3 linked regions of the Homo sapiens genome follow. The protein of the gene in region 1 interacts with the protein of each later gene in a pairwise test. Each region holds a gene or a part of one and is shown on either strand. Other genes may lie near its edges.

Evidence for each region. The genes of interacting proteins can lie anywhere in the genome.
Region 2: the proteins of SRSF11 (region 1) and LNX2 interact in a two-hybrid assay, tested with the Homo sapiens proteins (3 studies listed by BioGRID and IntAct).
Region 3: the proteins of SRSF11 (region 1) and PAX6 interact in binary tests that used the Homo sapiens proteins (3 or more experiments, as listed by UniProt).

The regions. Positions count from the first base shown.
Region 1 is NC_000001.11:70,245,352-70,252,415, reverse strand, and holds part of SRSF11 (serine/arginine-rich splicing factor 11), read right to left. Parts: intron 5,599-7,064; coding exon 5,509-5,598; intron 5,300-5,508; coding exon of another isoform or gene 5,284-5,299; exon of another isoform or gene 5,267-5,283; intron 2,486-5,266; coding exon of another isoform or gene 2,465-2,485; coding exon 2,369-2,464; intron 2,052-2,368; coding exon 1,913-2,051; intron 1,809-1,912; coding exon 1,611-1,808; 3' UTR 1-1,610. UniProt on the Homo sapiens protein: May function in pre-mRNA splicing.
Region 2 is NC_000013.11:27,561,530-27,568,543, forward strand, and holds part of LNX2 (ligand of Numb protein X 2), read right to left. Parts: intron 6,311-7,014; coding exon 6,111-6,310; intron 1,253-6,110; coding exon 884-1,252; intron 1-883.
Region 3 is NC_000011.10:31,794,323-31,801,336, forward strand, and holds part of PAX6 (paired box protein Pax-6), read right to left. Parts: exon of another isoform or gene 6,908-7,014; intron 6,535-6,907; coding exon 6,369-6,534; intron 6,340-6,368; exon of another isoform or gene 6,217-6,339; intron 467-6,216; coding exon 308-466; intron 1-307. UniProt on the Homo sapiens protein: Transcription factor with important functions in the development of the eye, nose, central nervous system and pancreas. Required for the differentiation of pancreatic islet alpha cells.

The DNA of each region.
Region 1 (7,064 bases):
CCAAACACTACTCATTTCATAAATGAATACTATTTAGTACTGTACAGTAGATACATATTGACAGCTTCTATACTACTCCAGAAAGGCAAATATCTGTATTTCACCGAAAATATAAATTTGCTAGATATAGGTGGGATTTGTTTATACTAAAGTTCATTGCTTTATCCAACCCCATTCCCACACAAAAAATAAGCAATAAAATGATACTAAGCTAAGAAAAGGACTATTTTGGATAGAAATTAAATCATTTTTGACAATTTTGATGGCAATTATCACTACAGTGATAGACTTCCTCTTTTTACTATACTGAAATATGTGGACAGAAAGGGAAAGAATTTGTAAAATGAATGAGGTAAATGTCATACATTCAGTAGCGTAAATAAATACAAATACGGTTTTACAGGAACATGAACATAAGTTTAAGGGTTTTATTATCAAAGTCTTGTAAAACAATTTCAGAAACTGTACATCAACATGGCACAGACTGTAGCCTACTTTTGTTTCTACTGCACAAAAGTGAAGCTTGAAACTTCTGTAACTAAGAAAACAGTTGCCTACTTTGCATATATAACATGAAATCACCGTGTGCATAAGATTACTACTGCAGTAACACAAATTTATTGGTTTTATACAACTTGAGATCAAATAAAGGTACATTATCAAGTAGATTTGTCTTATTTTAAAAGCGTATGAAGGTCAATTTAAAATGCACTACCCCTTTTTTCCAACACGGAGCTTAAAACAAATTAATGAAAGAGTGGAAAATTCAAAATAAGGGCAAGAGATAAGGTTTTTTTCTTTTTTTCCTTTAAGATAGACTCAGGATAGGTAGATAGCTTTCACTGATGTAGATGTGGAATAAATTATTACTTCAGGAAAAAAATTCCCAAACATCTTATGAAAAAGTATACAACTCTACTTCAAAATATGCTATTTACTCACTGCCAAAGACAGTTTTATTTGAAATCTTGTTTCTGTATTTAAACCCTAATTAGCCACCAAAAAAGGTTAGTGCATAATAACCTTTCAAAGTTAAACAAAAGCCACAAAAATTTTGCCACAAGGCTTAAAGGATTATCTATTTCAAATGCTCATTTCCAGATGTAACTATAAGAATGTTAATTTGTCATGTCAACAAACAAGACCATAAGTAGATCCATCATGTTGGAGGATTTTAATGACATTTAGGATATTCTTGCCACAATAACATGCAATCAGTGCATTTCCTACATGGCTCTATTACGGCAATGAATCAAATTATAGAAATACTATAAGTGAACTTACTTAATAAAGGATATCATACGACATAAACAATCCATGCCTGCTGTAGATGCATGCAGCTTTTCATTTTTGTTATGAAGCAGCACCAGAATAGTAAAACTGCTTGGTTACTCAATCAGATTTCACCATGACAAGAATTGGTTACCTCGTACCATTTTCTAAAAGCTTTTTGATGTAAATAACTAATATGAGTAACAGGAGCTTTATAACCATTTATAACTCAGAGCTGTATACATCTAGGTTTGAGATGAACAAATACAGCATTAAGAAATCACACAAAGGAATGACACTGATGCAGGTATACAGTTGGACTCCCTCAGAGGCAATATTCAGTCACTCATATCCATGTCTTCTTCATGATGATCATCCCCATTCACTTTGGATTCTCTTAGTGAATCACCAGTTCCCTTTTCCACAGAACATTCCTTTGTTTTAGGGGAACCTGTTTCTATTGGTTTCTTCTCTTCTTTTTTCTCTTTCTCACTGTCATACCCCTGTTCCTCTTCATCATAATCCCGTGTAACCTGCTTTGCCAAGGAGAATAATAAAAGTAAACTTCTCCAAAGAAAAATAACTTCTGAAAGTACCAACATCACCCCAAATATAAAAATAAATCAATTTGTAAACATACTTTTACATCTTTATCACTCTCTGATTTTCTTTCCCGGTCCTTTTCCTTATCTTTACTCTTCTTCTTCTTGCTTGTTGATCGTTCTCTTTCATCCCTACTTCTTTCTTTGTCTTTATCTTTCTTCTTCTCCTTTTTATGTCTAGAATGACAGTAAAATGTACAGCAACAGGTTTAACTTGTTTAGATGATGAGCCTGACTCAATTTCACAGGATATAAGTAGTACAGCAAAGATCCAACTTCAAAACCTTGGAGAAGTAACACAGGCTACAAAACTAACTTGTTTATAGGACTAAAATGTTCAGTCCTTAATGGTGTTTAAGTCACAAGTCAGAAGGAGAATACATTAAAACATTCTTAAGAACTGTAACTGCTGAAAAGAAAAACTACAGGACAGTTTTAAAATGAAAAACCTCTGAAAAATATAAAAAATACATTTAAATGATTAACATTCTTACCTCCTAGGGGATGGTGAGCGGGACAATTTTCTTTTAGGAGACCGAGGCTTTTTAGGAGATCTTGTGCCACTCCTGCTTCTTCGTCGTCGTCTCTCTCTAGAATCACAAATGTGCAAACTAGGTTTTAAAATACAGTGTGATCTTAAAAATGCAGACACATCATAGATGATTCTAACAATGAAAGATGTGGCCAGATGTAGTGGCTCATGCCTATAATCCCAGCACTTTGGCAGGCTGAGGTGAGGGGATTGCTTGAGCCCAGGAGTTCCAGACCAGCCTGGGCAACATGGTGAAACTCTGTCTCTACAAAAAATACAAAAAAATTAGCCAGGTGTGGTGGTGCATGCCTGTAGTCCCAGCTACTCAGGAGGCAGAGGCAGGAAGATCACTTGAGCCTGCGGAGGTTGAAGCTGGAGTGAGTTGTGATAGGGCCACTGCACTCCAGCCTGGGCAACAGAGAGAGACCCTGTCTCAAAAAAACAGAAAAATGAAAGATTGTTTCACAATACTGGTATAAGCTAAACAATTAAATGAGTAATATAATCATCTGCAAACCATGAATCTTTCCCTTTACTACCCTCAAGAAAACTCCTAATTTCTAGTAATTCTTTTAATTGATGACAAAATGTTAGAAATACTAAGCTTGAGAAAAAACTGATTTAACAAAACTAATGCGAGAGGGGTGACGTGTGAAGTAAACTATTACTGAAGAAGTTAGTTTTTGGTTCAAACATTCAGTGTTCAGAGTAAGTACAGAATAATTCAATAATGTGATATAGAAGGTAGTTACTAATAAAATATCCCCACATTCACCTTTAAATCATTAGATGAAATTCAGAGAACTAGTTAGTGGAAAGGTAGAAACCTTATACTCTAGCAAAATCGCCCTCCTGCAGTCCCCCAAAACCCTGCTTTCACCAATTACTTTGAAGATATACAGCTGATATACAGCCTTCCCCTCCTTTTTACTGTAACTTAAAAAAAAAAATTCTGTTCCTGATTCTCAAAAGTTATCAGACTTAAAAAACCCTGTACTTAGTTGTCTAATTTCCAAATGAAGCTTTTTTTCTACTTACACAGCCCTCTGTGACCCTTGTCCTGGAAACGTTACACATAACTGAGCATTCACTTATCAAACATTGTCACGACTGTGCACCTTATACTTTTTGCTACTGTCTTATGTAACTGAAACTCCAAATTCTCTAGACGGAAGAAGTATTTTATATTACATTTCCGTGTCCTTCAACAGACTGTAGCACAACTACAAACACAGTGGGTATTTAATAACTCACAGAAGATGCCTTAATTTAGAGTGATCCAATAATACAGCATGAGAAGGCACTTACAAGTACATTATATAAAGCAACAGGTAAAAAAAAAAATCCTCAACAGTTTTTAAGGTAAGAAAATATATGTAGTACCTTCCATCTTTTCTATCTCTTTGCCACCTATCCCTCAGGCCTGATTCAGCATTTCCTTCTGTACTTACATTTGGTTTCATTTTCATGCTTAAAAATTTAGTTTTTAAGAAAATTTTCACCACCCCAAAAACTCCCTACCCTTTAGTTATCACTCTAATCCTCCCTATCTCCCCAGCAATCAGTAATCTACTTGGTATCTTTATAGATTTGCCTATTCTGGGCATTTCATATAAAAGGAATCACGCAATACACGGCCTTTCATGGATGTTTGCAAGTTTCATCCATACTGTAGCATGTATCAACCTTATTTATCACTGAAAAATATTCAATTGTATAGATATACCATTCTGTTTATCCATTTGTTAATGGATAGTTAACTTTTTGGCTATTATGAAATAATGCCACAAACATTCACATAAAAGTTTTTCTGTGAAAATGTTTTCATTTTCCCCCAGGGGTACAACTGGTGGGTCAAAAACCTCTATGTTTAACATTTTTAGGAAATGCCAGACTGTTTTCTAAAACACCTGTACCAGTTTATATTCATACTAGCAATGCACAGGGTTCTAATTTCTCCACATCCTAATCAACACTTACTATCATCTGTCAGGCTCAGCTATCATCTGTCTTTTTGATTTATAACCATCCTAGTGACTGTGACATATCTCACTGTGGTCTGGTTTGTATTTCCTTGGTGACTAATGATGTTGAACAGATTTTATGTACTTACTAGATATTTGCATATCTCCTTTGGAGTAATGGCTACAGATTCTTTGCCATTTTTAAATTGGGTTGCCTGTCTATTGCTGAGTTCTAAGAGTTCTTAATAGAGAATATATAAAGAATTTTCTAACTAGCACTCTAGGTTTTTACTTTCTTGATAGTATCCTTTGAAATACAAATGTTTTAACTTTTGGTGAATTCCAAAATTTTCTTTTCTTCTGTTGCTTATGCTTTTGAAGTCATATCTAGGAAACCACCAAGCTCATGGTCTTAAAGATTCACTTTTGTTTCTTTCTAAAGGTTTTATAGTTTTGGCTCTTACATTTAGGTCTTTTATACATTTCAGTTATTTTTTTTTATATGGCATGAACCTTCTCCTAGTGAATTTAAGTAATGTTGATGAATAAAACAAGCACTGCAGCAAAACATGTGAATGAGATCTGAAAAATGGAATGAAGTCCAGCCCTTACTATCATATAAATCCCAAATTAAGTATGAAAATGTGCTTTTTGTGCAGTAAGGTCTGCAACATTTCAATTTTCACTGACAGCTTAAAGATAGAATTAGTCTAAGAATGACACAAACCAGAACCTGCATTGCTTCCCATTAATTCAACAGTCATTAAAAGGGATAGAAAAATTCTCAAGTACTAACATGCAGATGATAAATATAGCTTACTATAATAAGCTTACTTAATGGAACAATTCAGTATGGTTTAGCCATTAAAACTTAAACTATAAAGAGAAAAACTCACCTCTCTTGAATTCCATGTTACTTCAAATATACTCTAGACCATAAAATATTAAGTAAAAAGAAAAATAAACTACATTATTCTTCACAAATTGCCTTTTAAAAACTTTAAATAACAGCAAAATGTAACTTTTTTCAACACTGAAATACTTATGTTCTGGAAAAGACTTCATACTGACAGCGTACTGATACTGTTAGAAGCAAAGTTAAAAAAATAATTGCCAAGAATTCACAATGCCACCTTACCTGCTTGCACTTCTAGAACGTCTGGCTGTGCTGTAACTTTTTGGTGGTGTTTTAGAACGTTTCTTTTCTTTGTCTTCTTTCTTTTTGTCTCTAACAAATGAACACAATTTATGAATGCATTAGAAGACTCAGCTGATGCCAATTTATATAGCACTACAAACACAAAAATATAATCAGATCTAATCCCATCCTTAAAAGCATAAATGTTGTTCTGACAGAAACTGTTTTAAAAATAATACTTTATGTGGCATATTTGAAGTACAATAACTTCTTTTAAAATCCTATTATCCTAGGTTTTCTCCCAAGTAGACTAAAGTAGACTATGGGTGAGAAAATAACTAGGATGTTGGCTTGAAATATACTTGGTAAACACCAATAAGTTAACTATCTCTAGGCTCCTCAAGACTCCTTTTTCTCTCAGCTGATTACCACTTTCCCAACCCACCTCTCCTATCAGGCCAAAACCCATAGAGCACTACCAAAATCCATCAATATCATGAATATTCTTCCAAGACACACATCCCATGTCAACCTCTATCATGGATCAAGCAAGCTTCTTTTTCTGCGGCTATTATGAACTATTCAGGGCTTATTAGAAAATATCAACAGATTTTGACTACAGCCGTAACTCAATTTTTTTTTTTTACAGATTCCTATAAATTTTTACTCCTCACAATATTTTTTCCCCAAGATCATCATTCTCCCCAAGACTCTAAGCAAAGAGTAGATAAACGATATATATTTGTTGAATGAGAAGTCTCATAACAACCCCCCTCTTTAACTATTCTCTAATTTTAAGAATCAAAGTATCCCTCTCTTACTGTTCTAAGCTAATCTTTCCATTCTGCATTCTCAATTTCATTTTTTTCCCTTCTCTGGTCATCCTCGGTTCCCTCTTCATTCAATCTTTATCATTGGTTCCCTCTTCATTTGAATCTTTATCATCTAACTCCTAGATTACTAGAACAGTCCCCTAGTAGGTCCCAGTCATGCCTTCCATAAACTGATTCTGTACTCTGTCAGAAATCTTTTAAAGTACAAACCTGAAAATATTAATTCCCTGTTCACCATTTTCAACTCATTCCAGTTGCCTCCTGGATCAAGTGCATAGTGTGAACAACAAAGCCTTCCACGATCGGTCTCATTATATTTTTCTGACCTCATTTTCTAGTCCAACTACATCAAAATATTGTTATTTCAAGAAACACCATTCTCCACCTGAAAGCATGCCTCCCGTTGAGTCTAGTCAAATCTTTCAGAATTTAATACTCGAGTCATTCTCAAACCTCTTCCAATATCAGCAAGTAGCAATCATCATTTAACAGTTCCTCCCCTGTAATTAAATCCATCACTCTTCTCCTAGTAATCAGAAAGTCCTTAAAGAAATGCTTAATTCCTTTGTATAACTGTTCTATTAATCTACCTTGTTTGATTCACTCTGCAGCACATAAGGACTAAAAGCCCCATTATTACAGGTTTAACAATGATAGTAAAGCTACCCCCACTCTTCTGTTCTCATCAGTTGAGTTTTATGCTTCCCAAGAGTAAGTTATGTT
Region 2 (7,014 bases), on another chromosome or scaffold:
AATTAGACCAATATCAGAATCTCCTCTCAATACAATAAAGAGAGTTGAGACTTGAATTTTCTTATAGTCTTAAATTTTCATTGTTATTTGATTCTGTGTTGTAAACACATTCTTCAATGACTATCGGCCTACCCTACTTCCTGATCCTCAATTACATAATTCTTGGTTTCCTTTACAGTGTTTTGTTTTGCTAACTTTAAGAAAAACATCTTTTTGTTGCACCCTTATCACTGTAGAAGTTGCTCATATCATTAAATGCTATGGCATGTTGCAGAATGTATAGATCTCCTCTGGATGACTTTCCAACTTATCCATCTTCATGCTTTTATGAAAAACATGTTCTTTCTCTAATAATGACTATCCTTACTTATGTCACAAAGATGCTATGAGGACAAATTTTATCATGTATTTTAAACACTGTGAATTCCTTAGAAACAACAACAAAGCACTATAGAGATAAGAGTTATTCTTCCTCTATTTATATAGATCCTGACAGGGAGTTAAGAGACCAGGTAAGTCAGATCCTTGGTAATCACAGCTCTTTTGAGCCTCCCTTTCCTCACTTCTAAAAGGTGGACATATCATCTGCTACATCTGGCTTAATAGTAGAACCCAGGACCCAAATGAGAAATGAATGTGAAACAGTAGAGCCTACGCTCTGTAAATAACCATCCCCAAAATTCACAGGGATATAGTTTTTAGAAAAGACTATCTCCAATGAAGTTATACTAGTGTGGATTTTAAAGAATTCAGGTAGCCACACCCGATTTTCTAATGAAATATAAAATGTCCCCTGAATTCTGATGTTATTGGCCAGTGAAAACAAATACTACTATATGATCATTTCGGCCAAGCCTTTGGAATGAAGGCCAAGAGGGTTTACCTGAATAATCTGGGCAGCAAGCTCCGGAGTTCCATACTTCAGGTCGTGCCCATTGATGGCCAGCACTCGGTCATTGCTGCTTAGCCTGCCGTCCTGGGCAGCCAACCCCCCTTCCAACAGGTCAAGAATAAAAACCCCTGGCTCATCTGTCCTTCGCACCAATTTAATGCCAAGCTGTTCACCAGAGTCCCGTTTATGAAGAGCCACTTGGAAAATCTCTTCTCGTGGAGAGTTACTATCAGAATGGTTGTGTGCTCGGTTGCCAAAGCGCCTCTCTCGAAGCACAGTAAGATGCAGTGTGTTGCAGGGCTGGGAAAGGACAGCTCGGGCATAGTTATGGGACACATTGCTGATATTGTAGTTGTTGACCTAGAAAAAAAGAATTGTGACCGAAGTGTGACAACCTTTTATTTTTCCAATTTGTAGGAATGTTTATGTGACATTTCCACAGGAAACTAAGTATTGTGAGAGTGCTAAGTATGGTGAGAATGCTATACAATCATTATTTACAAAGAAAACCACATTAAAGACATTTAAAAACAGAGTTTCTAATATTAACTTACAGTGACTAGCATCAAGGAGAGAATAGTAGCTAGGATCACGGGCTTTAATGACGGTCTTGAATTAGAGTCCTAGGTACTACCATTTACTAACTGATAACTTAGGCAAATTATAGAACTTGTCTGAATGAGTCTCCTCATCTGTAAAATGTGTTTACTTCATGGGATCAGTATGAGAATGAACAGATTAACATGGGGCAAGTGCTAATGAAATAAATACTAATTCTAGTGGAACAGAAATTTAAGTTTTACTAGATTACAAATTTGCTTCTTCCAAATTAAATACACTTAAGCTAGAGAAAATAAATTGTTATTTTAAGGAAAGTAGCACATTTCAGGTATACAAACTTATTTTAGATAAGTGACTTTTACCTGAAAGAAAACCAGGTTAATTGTAATTTCACTCTAATTCTTCAGCACAGAAATATTAGGTTGGTGCAAAAGTAATTACGGTTTTTACCATTAAAAGTAAAATATAATGTATATCTAATGCATTATTCAATACTCATATAACATTTATGTATTCACCTTTATAATCTCAAAAAAAGTATAGTGACTGATCCTTGGGTATGTAACAGCACTTAGAAAATACACCTAACTTCAATTATTTCTTTAGTTACAAGAGATGAGCATGATTCTTAGCATTTATCACAATTAGAGTTCTTCTCTGAATCGGTCTGAGATGAAACCAACATCCTCTGACCATCTGTTATATGACAGGCTCTGAGTTAGGTGTTTATGATCACCTAAAATTCTTACATCTTTTTCACACAAATCCACATTAGGCAAGACTTTCCTCTTCCTATTGACTTAGGATTGATAGTTGTAAATACTATTTTGAATTTTGTTGATTTTGACCTATTAACACCTTTCAGAATTCAGTCACCAAATGCACAGATGTCACACACAAACTTGCTTTCTCCCAAGTCTGCAACATCTATTAATTTGGTAGTCATCCAAGTCCTTGGTAAAAGTATTGAATAATACAGGGTCAAGAATGGAACTTCTGAAGTTCTATTATATTTAGAAAGCAGCTTCTAAAAATCCACGCAGATATAGATTCATTAGTCAAACCACCATTTCCAACTATTTAGCTACAAAGCTACCTACCTGTAGGTTCACATTTTTCTGTCTTATATTCAGACATATCACACATATCACAAATGACTTTACAAAACGTCTGGCTAAAATCCAGCCATGTGTAAACATGCAGCCTCATAACATCTTTGTGAAGCAGGCTGGGGAATATTCTACAACTGGAAAAAGATTTTTCCTCCAGGAATGCATGGTTGCCAGTGAAATTCAGAGAAAGCAGAAACCAAATAAAATATTGTTTCTAGATTTTGTAAAAATAACATCAGCATAGCAAACTATCTCATTTTTGAGCTAAATGTATTTTTTTATCAATCAACAGCTGTAATTATTTTCCTTCAGAACTGAAAATGCCATTATTGATGACTTCATTAAACTGAAAATACTTATTCTTAATAATGTTCTAAGTTATATTACTTTTATTAATGATATTGAGGTAATTTATAATAGCAGTATTTTTTTTTCTTCAAAACTGCTCAAAGAGGCTGCATATGAAACTCTAAGAGTAGCAAAAAGCTCTAACAGCATATGGTTCTCCTTTTCAAAGAGGCTATTTAATAACATTTGTATATGTAAATAAATATATATAAATGTGGGAAAACCACCAAAGCCACACACTGCTTATGTATATGGTCTGCAAAAATGAAAATGCAAGCTAGCTCTCTGGTCTGCAAATCAACCATCTTACTGCCTCTTCGAGATTTTCAAATTGGCTCACTGTGTTATATTTATTTAGCTTATACAAAGTTGGAGGTAACCAGATAGTAAAAAATACCAATAGGCCTCTTTCCAAGTGTTTACTCTTGAATAACCATAAATAGTCCATATGTGGGAAAGGGGGGTGGCTTTACTTGGCTCCAACACACCAGTTAAAAGCCAACCAGAAGTCAGGGCCTATAATAGGAGAGACCCTTTGTGAATTCATTAATCAGATTATGTGCTCAGACTTTTCTTATCAATTTGAATCATTAAACTAGATGTAAGATTGCCATTATTGGAGTTATTAGTATACAGGTTTCCATAAACAGTAATAATGCAGTGGAATTTCTACAATGTAGACTTTATAACTGAATTAATTCCCAAAAATATGGTTGATAATTTCAGATAATTACAATCTTTTGAGGTCTAAAGATTCAGTAGTGTTAATGAACCATTCTCTAAAATAGAAACAAGCCCACTGATGAAATGTATTAGTAAAAAAACTTAAACAAATCTGTTATATTCAAAGAAATATAAATAAAAACATTTGTAACAATACTGGGCTAGTAGCAAAAAATAAGTGTACACTTACATTTCAGCTAAAAAGCCCAGAAGTGGGAGAGTCAAAGAACACTCAGTGGGCTGCAGAAAAGGACTATCTGCCCTTCCTGGTCCTGACCACCAAAGTGTCAAGATGTCTGGGAGGATGAACCTGGGAAATGAGCTGTAAGAGTCGCTCTCTGCAAAATCAAGTCAGGAGCTAGGATGTAAATAATACAAGGGGTCCTACAAGTTGTGCCAGCCTGTGCAGCTAAAGTACTAATATCATAAAATGCAGCTAGGATAACTAAATAGCTAGCTATGACAGGATCAGAAATCTGATTTTATATGAGCTGGATTAGTTATGTTCCTGTATTCGTCTATTACATCTAAGTATTTGGTAAAAAAAACACTGTTTGAAAGCTCAGTCTGTCTCAGCCATGCCTAGGGGTAATGAAGGAAAGGTTTTAGGCTTGGTGTTAATTATTTTCAGGAATAATACACCATGAAAAGCAGCATACAAGCGGGAGTGGAAATCAAACCCAAGAATCCCTAGTAGGGTCAATCCTGGCTGCCTTTGTAGACTCCCATAGCCCCAAGTCTAGAGATTTCTTTTCAACAACTAAAAATCCTAACCAAGTTTTTCTTTTAATAAAGGAGATGGCTATTCCCAACAGCATCTTATATTCAAATTCACTCTTTTATTGACTCAGCAAATATTTTCTGAGCACTTACTACAAGCTATGAGAAATCTGTATCATAATCTGTACCATTAGGGTGGTTGCAATTACCTTAGATCATGCCTACATACGTAAAATGTTCAAACAATTCTCTGTAACTCATCACGTGCCAAGTGATGAAGAGAAAAGTGATGAATGCCAATAATAACTAATGTAGGAGGAATCAGTATGGGGGAGAATGGCTGAACAAAAGCTTTAAGGATGAAGGTGAACAAACTGGCTCATGAGATGAGGACAGGCTGCAATGTGGGAATAAGGTGTTTGCAGGGAAGGAAGAAGACTGCTATGTCTGGCTCTTCCACTAGATTGTATATTCCACGAGGACAGGTCAGTATTTTGCTCTGAAATGTACCACCAGCAACTAGTATAGTGCCTAGAATGTTGTGAGAAATGAATGAGCTGGTGTGCCTGAAATGAAGAATTGAGATTAACAAGACAGGTTGTAGAAGAGACCGTGGAGGACCCTGACTATTAGATTAATCAGTCTGGACTTGACCTCCTAGTTGAACCTTTGCAAGGCAAGCAGGGTTACTGATGTATTAACCTGGCAGTGATTGTTTCAGATTTAAGGGAGGAGAGTTGGGAGGCAGAAGTATATGATGGGGTATTCTACTAAATTAGATATGAAGAAGAGAAGTCCTAGACTCAAGAAGTGGCAGGAAAATGGAAGTAGGGGGTAGATATCAACAGGTCATGGTGAAGGACCGAACCACAAATCCAAGGAGAGAGAGGAGTCCCTGCGCTTGGGTTGACAGGAGACATTTTTTCTTGTTCATGAATATTTCCTCTCTCTCCTAGAAGTTATCCGTTTTTAAGCTTCAATTATTATCACCTTTGTATGATGAAAATGGTCCAGGCCGGTATTAACATCAACTCCGGGATTGTAGAACTCTTACCATCCTCCTCCCCTCATCTCAACTTGCCCTCTAATAAAATATCTTGTCCCATGCTAGTTATTTCTGGAGAATACCTGTTTCTTCTTAAAGATCATCTTCTGAAAGGGAAAACAGTAAGGGGAGCGAAGGGGATTATTGAAAATGCAGAGTTAGAGTGTTTGCTGAGGAGAGTGCATTAGGGAGTTGATAGGAGATGACTGCAAGATTTCTGAACTCTATCTTATAATCTGTGGTATAAATTATGAGTGCTGCATGGTTCCTTCTTTTCTAGATTTTAGTAGTCTGTATAGAAAAGGATAAATCCAACAATGAAGGTAATGAATGGGAAAACTGGGTATAAAATAATACCAATGAGATGATAATTTCAACATGGATGAAGGTGACCCTTGAACAGTCATTCAAGAAGTCCAAGCAGGAAGAGGCTAGTCAGCCCAAGGAAGAGTCTAGCTAGCTCAGCAAGCCTGAGATCATGTGCCAAGCCACATCGCATGCAGGAATGAAAATTAAGATAGGAAGAAAAAATACTCTGTGTATATGGGAAAATACCACAAATTACACATAAATTCTGATGTTTTGCATATAGAAACAGTAAAACTAATCTATATATAATTTAGGTTCCAAAACAGCACAATTTTCTAAGGTTTAAGTGTTAAGAATGGAACAAAAAGGCACAAGTTAACAGAATAATTAAAACTGATACCTGAAGAATCTGGTCTCCAGCAAGAAGTCTCCCGTCTCTGGCAATGACCCCATCCCGATAGACCTCCTGGATGACAATGTTAATCAAAGGTGTTTCGTTGCCACCCACAATGCTGATTCCTAACTGAATGTAAGGATTGGACCGATGAATTTCAATCGTGGTGATTTCTCCTTCTGGTAAACTAAGTGGCTGTTGTGTGGCTGCCAAGTTAAAAATGAGACAGACAAAAACAGATGTTAAAAAAATAAACAAACCCAACAATTTATATTCTGATTATCTTCAGGTAAGTATGTCACATTAATACATGATTAACAGCTAAGCAGTATCACTGGATAAGAAACAAAATGACAAAATATCTGTTGTTAAGATTATCTAAAAATTTTCTCTACTAAAACTGATCAGTAAATAATAAATAGCTACTATGTATCAGATCACTAGGGACGACACAGTGATCTGATTAAGAAATATGAAAAGAAAGTCATTCTGTCCTCATTGATGAGAGAAAATTTGGACCACGAAACAACTGTACATAATGAGAGGCAGTACAAAGGAAACACTAGCTCTGTGGCATAGAAACAGCACAGGTGTTGAGAGAGTAGCCACATCAAGCTCGTAAGAAGAGGTGGGTCTTGAACGGAGACGTAGGAAATGAAGAAGGCGCATAGTTGCGGCAAGGAAAATTCAAATTTGTAGTAGAGCTTGGAAAAAGAAAATCATTTTTAAAAGGAAATATCAAGGGCCCACTACCATGATATGCCCAAGATCCATGACTACGGGCCTTCTGTTAACTTCCTAGTGGGTAACAGAGCAGTGGCTGGTACCAGAGGTGTATAACGGTGAGATGCATGGTCTTGGAGTCAAATACAAACCCAGTCATTTACTGGTTGTATAAACTTGACCAATT
Region 3 (7,014 bases), on another chromosome or scaffold:
GTGGCCTGAAATAGCCAAATCATCATTTTTCCTTATAAGTCAGACATTTAGTCTTTGAATTACTGGTAGATGAAAAGAAGAAACACACACACACACACCACACACACACACACACACACACACACACACACACACACACACACACACACACACACACTGAAAAGATGCCCAGAGAAATAAAAAGACAGAAAAAAGGAAATCTTTTCATTCTTCTATGCAAAGGGCCCTGGCTAAATTTAGCTCTTTGTACTGAAGATGTGGCATTTACTTTGATTTACTGCTTCTCTACTTTGAAAAACTCTATCACCTTTCTCCAGGGCCTCAATTTGCTCTTGGGTAAAGGATGTTCTATTTCTTTGCAGCTTCCGCTTCAGCTGAAGTCGCATTTGAGCCTCATCTGAATCTTCTCCGTTGGAACTGATGGAGTTGGTATTCTCTCCCCCTCCTTCCTGTTGCTGGCAGCCATCTGGAACAAAAAGAATAGGATGGTAAGAGAAATTTGGATTAACTTGGAGCCTCCAAAAGGGGCCTGGTGTAGTCTTAAACTCCAAGAGCATTATATCCCGACAGCCTCACCAAAACATTCCCAAGGTAACTGTCAGCCTTCTTTTAAAAAAATACATTTGCGATGTTAGTTACCTGACCACCATTTTCTTTGTTTTTATCAAGATGAGACTTTATAATACACACACTAAGTGGCATTTCTTGAATGAAAAAATAAGCACTGAAGTTTCCAATTAAAATGATCTTTTATAAGTAACCCCAACTCCCCAAATGCCTCACTCCACTCCCTACAGAATCTCTTTACCTATGGCTGTGTTGGGAAAATAGAAGAGTGATGTTCAAGATTTCAGTTGATCTATAATCAGTAATTCCTATCTAATCAATTAGATGTTGATAGGTTTGTAGAAAATGCTATTAAGAAACCAAACCAAGCTTGTAATCTTTTTTAAAAAATATTTATCTAGTTTTTATTTGAATTCTGCACAGTCAATTTCATTTAAAGGTTGTGAATTTAGAAGTGCTCGCATTGTTCTGCAGTTTTATTCAACTATTGTATGAGTGCGCTTCGCCTTGACACCTATTACGAGCACAGCTGTAATTATATCATCACCAAGAACAGGCTATAATTGCTGAAAATGGAATTTTATATTTAGATAAAAGGACTGTCCATTCTTTGTAATGTGTTGCACCAGAGAAAAGTAAGATTTCTTTTAAATTTTTAACGTGTAATTTTAAAAAAGAAATAGTAGAGAGTTCACTAACTAGCTAAATATTCTATGCTGCAGCTGAATCTTTGGCATATCATTTAAGTGGTACATTTTTAATTAGGGCATTTCCACCACTTTGAATGTAACTTCTATCATTATACAGGGGGAAAGTTTTATGGTTTTCCCTTGCTGCCTGGAGGGCAAGATGTGCACTTGGGCTAGCTGGCTCCCGGCTTGCACCTTGCCTGTAAGGCCACAGTGAAGGGAAGCAGGATTGCCTAAACTCTGACTGGGCCTCCAGGGCCACTACAGGCTGGGTCCTGGGTCTGGGGTCCTGAAATGACCCCCAAGGGATACCAGCATGGGCTACCCACCTCCCTATCCTCAAAACTTGGCCAGAGGCGGGGTGGAGGGGCCCCTAGGAGCGCCTTGGTGGGAATCGACTTGGCCAGGAATATTATTTATAACCAGGAGACAATAGGCTGCGCCTTCAAAGAGTTCAGGGAATTGTGACAGGATCTAGTGGGATCTTTTCAGGAACTTTGAAATGTTTTAAAACCCCAACTTTCTCCCCCATTTAAACAGGCGGATTCATCGGCACTGGCCACCATATGGGCCCTTGGAGATCTATTGAGATGACCACCAACACTTGAATAGCGAGGGGCTGCTTTTCAGCGCTGCACAATGCCCCGCGAGTAAGGGAAACTATTAAACTCCTGGGGCAGGAGCGTTGGCAAACTTTCGTGGGCAGAATTTTGAGGCTACAATGAGCGCGGACAACAAAAGGATTCTCTTGAGGCGTGCAGCGGGCCACATTGTGTTACAAGAAGCCCAGTCAACAGACTTTTCAGTGAAGTGTGTTAACCCCTCTGCTCTGCTATCATTAATCACTGTCCGAAGAGCGGGCGCCTCCGTGCTATTTAGGGCGCTTGGCTGGGGGGATGGAGGGTGGATGGGGGGGCCAGGGCCCAGCATGGGGGGAGGCAGGGAGAGTGGACGGGGACCAGGGCTGGGTTCCTACATAGAGGAGATGGAGGGGAGGCAGGATGGAAACCAGCGGTGGGGGTGGAAGCAAGGGGGAAGGATTGGGGGGCCTGGGTTAGGGGAAAGACAGAGGGCGATGGAGGGAAAAAGAGGGCGATGGAGGGGAAAAGAAGGCTCAAAAAACATAGAGGCTAGAAAGGTATTTTTAAAAAAGGACAGAAAAGAATGCTGAGAGGAAAAAGAGACACGAGGGCCGAACAAGAGTGGGAGAGAGAGGAAAAGGAGGATGAGGGCCAGAGAATATTAGTAACTGAGCCCCATCTGGACTCTGGGTCTTTGCACTCCATCAGAAAGGTGGGGGTCGAGGAGGGCTACTTAGCTGAGGGAGACGCGCTCCGCTCACGTGTGCGGGCACAAGCGTCTGTGCTAATTTACTGCCCCAAGTTTCCGGGGACTTTTCAAAGCGTTTTTCAAGGGAAGAAATGAAGCGACCACCCCCACCCCTCGCTTTATTTTCGGGTTTGGTGAAGAAGGAAGACTGGAAATAGCTCCTTTTGGCCAACTAGAAAGGCCGGAGGGTTATTGCTTTTGGAAAACAGACAAAAATCTGTGCACATCTGGTATGGGGTGGGGGACACTGAGGAGAACACAATGCCCATCTCCCCATGGCCACTCATGCCCATGCCTTCCTAGGGGCCCCATCTCGGTCCCTTTTCTGGCACATTCGATCTCGCCAATTAAACAAAGTTGCCCGAATCTGCCTCCGAAGAACCCCGCCGATAGCATGCTCTGCTCTCATTTGCCTCTTTGACATTTTCTTAATTTTAAAACATGGAGATTCACATTCTTATCCATGTTCTGTCTCACACAAACATACACACGGGTTTACACAGGCAGCACGCGATCGCCGCCAGGCCCTGTGCTGCCTCCAGAACTGACACTTAAGAGAGAAAAGTCAGCAGGGACAGTAGAGCTCAATTTTAAATCTGGAAAAAAAAAAAAAAAAAAAAAAGATGGGAAGCGGGGATTGGAATTCCACAGCAAAAAGAAACCTGTCGCTGCAGGATCCCTTCTCTACCCCGCGGGGAGAGCGGCACGGAGACAGTTCATTACTTTAGAAGTGGCAACTGTTTGCAGCCAGGCGGTGACCTAGCGGCTGCTCTTACATAAAATGGGTACATTTCCCCCCACTTTAGTGGATTTGCCTTCCACTCTTAAAGCTTTTAACAAAATAAAACTAGAAGTTGGATCTCGACTCCCCCACCCCCACGATAAACCTAAGTGGTGGACAATTAAGATATCTTCTTCAAAAGGCGCCCCCTCGGAGCCGCGCAAAGCAGGGGCCTTCAGTGGGTGCCGTTCACCTTCCAGCCTAATCCGTGAGAAAGCGAGTGAAAGCGCCTCCCATTATCCCAGCCCCAGGACCATCTGACGATGGGAATAGGATTTGTTTCCTGGAAGGAGGTGAGAGAGAGAGAGAGAGAGAGAGACAGAGAGAGAGTTGCTGGGAAATAAAATCATTCCTTAGTTTCTTAGTGTCTTAATCAGTGAGGCGGAAAACAAGCAAGAAAAGATAGCAACCCGGTTGCGGCACCTTTTCAGCTCTGGAGCGCGGATCAAAACATTGTAGCATCTGTTGAAAGAGAGGCTGACTAAATCCTATAGAGGGCTTGGGTATTATGGGGGGTGGGGGTGGGGTGAGGGGAGGAGATAAGAAAAAGTGTCTCCGTGATCCCTAAAACCACCAAATCGCCGGAGAATTGGGGCTGGATAGAGTTGTCTCTTGTTGTTGTCAGCCCACGTCGTCGCGATTTTATTCACCGCCGCATGGCGTTGATCAGATGGAAACCATATTTGTCTCCCTCTGAGACCTAACCCCCGCCTTATGCTTTTGGAGTATGGACTCTTTAAAACCCAAGAAAGGCTTCCTGGGCTGGGAAAGGGGGCTAGGGAGGGAGGGGGACCCTCTTAGCACCAAAAAGTCTGAGGATTCCCCGGGAACGTGAAGCGAAGCTCACCACCGGTGCCCGCTACCCCCACGCCGGCAACTCTGTGCTTCGTTTGGCCCACGTGTCCTCCCCACGCAACTAGGGGCGACGGTCCTGTGCCTGAGGTGACAATCACCCCCCAAAAACCTCACTTGCGGGTGGGGGGGTGGTGATTGCCAGTTGACCCAGAATTTTCTAGCAACTAGGCGCGTTAAAGTGAAAAGCCCCTGGACTAGCTCCACCTCCGGCCCCAACCATCACAGGCGGACCCTAGCTGATTTGACTCTCACTTCCCGCCCTCAGACTGCCGGCGACGAAAATCCGCCCGAATCGGGCGCCACCTCTGGTGGAAGCTGCTGTCCTCGGCTTCTGCCCAACTCCAAGAAGCGGAAGGGGGGTGTATCCTGCGCCCCAAGCTCATGGGAGCCCACGCACCGGGGAGAGCCCGGAGTGGAGGCTCTGGGCTCAGCCCTCCCAGGCCTAGGCCACCGTGCCCTGAGTCCCTCCCCAAGACTTCTCGGACTAAGTGGGCCAGACTCTTGTCAGGGGAGGGATCACCAGGACCTCAGATTGCTGGGGGCGGAGGGGTGGACGCTCGTGAGTGCGAAGTTCGGGTGTCACTTGGGTGTGTCCAGTGTCTACAAGTGGGAATCCTACGGTTTCAAAAGTCAGGCAGGGATGGGGTTGCCTACACTCGGTGGGGTCAATCGCTAGTCTCACCAGAGGCGGGAGCGGGCCTGGGGGCCCTCTGAGCTCGCGGAGGCGGCGGGTTCGGGGCCCGTGCGGGCGGGGTCGCCCAGGGGAGCCCGGGCCCCGCGCGTCAGGAGGCCTCCGCCGGCCGAGCGGCCGCGCTGGGAAACAAGAAGCGAGCGCTTTGCTCCCTATCTTCCCAGTGTCCGTCCTATATTGTTTTCTGCTCTTAAAACTGACATGTCTAATTGGCAATTGGTGCCGAATCGTGTCCAGAGGTCTCTTGTGGAACATTTCTACAGCTGTCTCCTTCAACTAGACGCTTATTCATGTCGCCTTAATGAGAAACAAAACGTTCTCTAATGAGCAATTACAGAGCGACAGGATTGTTCCCATAACAAATTCTTGCGAGTGACAGAAGCATCCTTTGTACCAGATATTTCGCATACTGTTACCGATTTTCCCTTCCCTCGCCCGACTCCATGGAGGCGCCGGGCATCCGGAGCCGGTCCGAGAGCTCACGGATGCGCCGGCAGCCTCCTCGCAGTCCCGCGCGCCGCCCCTGGCCCCGAGCCCCTCGGCTCCGTTGTGCTCCTGGGAGTGAGACGCCACGTCCCATTATCCCGCATATTATCTCCTTGTCACGAGGACAACAAATACCGATTAATCTTCGGAGTAAACTGTTTCCTATTCTTGACCAAGCTACCTCGGGGTGTGGAGGGGAGCGGAGGGGAGCCAACTGACCCTCCCCTCCGCCCCACCCCCCCCATCCCCCGCTCTTCTTCCTCCAGCCCTTCTCACAGAACCTGGGGTGTTTCAGGTCCCATCTCTCCTCCCAGACCAGAGCGGCTCCCGGCATCCCGCCGTCCTGCTCACAGTATCTTCACCTCACCACTTCCACATAGTCGCCACCCACAGAGAGTGAGAAAGTGGGACCCAGAGGGGCGAACGGGGGAGGGGCAAGGATAGTGGGGTGGTTTTAGTTGGGAGACCACCACTTCCAATGCCCCATCCCCGACTCGCCCTGCATCTCCCTGCTCACCTTTTCATGTGCACCCTACTCATAGTCACATAATTTGTCAATTACAGCAAAAAGCAACAGGATACAATTATGTTAACCTCGCAGTCTGTCAGTGCGTTATCTTGTCACACTTCTACAAGGGGGCTCTCCCTGCATTCTAATGTCAAATTTGAATAGTGCACCACGCAGCTCGTTCTTATGCACACAGTGCTGCCCACAAACACACACACGCACCCACCAGCCACCTTCATACCGCTCCTGACATACACAACCCTCACATTCCCAGGCCAACAAAATGGTTCAACAAACACCACCTACATACAATGTGGTCGATGTGTCCCAGGCCTTCAAATGCAGTCTCACCCATGACATTCCCCAAGCATGGAAGCCCTGAGAGGAAATGGTTGGGAGAGTAGGGGACAGGCAAAGGGATGCACATATGGAGAGCTGCGTGGATGGCTGCTTGGGTTTTACCTTGCGTAGGTTGCCCTGGCACCGAAGTCCCCGGATACCAACCAGGGCGGGTGCCCCAGCTTCCGGTCTGCCCGTTCAACATCCTTAGTTTATCATACATGCCGTCTGCGCCCATCTGTTGCTTTTCGCTAGCCAGGTTGCGAAGAACTCTGTTTATTGATGACACCTGCAAATCAAACCAAAATCAAACCAAATGGTAGTGTCTCCTGAAGACACAGTCACCCATCTCAGCTCACCCACAACCTTAAAAAGCAACTCTCAACCCGTTAAAAAGCTCCCAGCCACCCCGGGACAGTGGGTGGATTTGCAGATACACCGTGGAAAAAATGATAGCTATCACTTTGGGCATGGAAATTTAGTTGGATAGAGAATTGGGCGGAGGGGGTCCTTCACCATTGCTTGGTGTCTCTGGTGACCTAACTCACACGGTTGCTTTGCTTTGTTAAAAGACTGCCCGAAAATAAAAACTATTTAGACTTGTTGTAAAGCTTTCTTTCATTATATTGTTTAATATTAGGATGGAAATGGATGTGTGACACCTGAAGGAAAGTTCTGGCAGGTGGATTAGGACGAAGTTACAATCTGGTTCTCATTTTCCTTCTTCATTCAAGTGCCTTTCCCTGGTGCCTCCGCCCTCTGTTTTGCA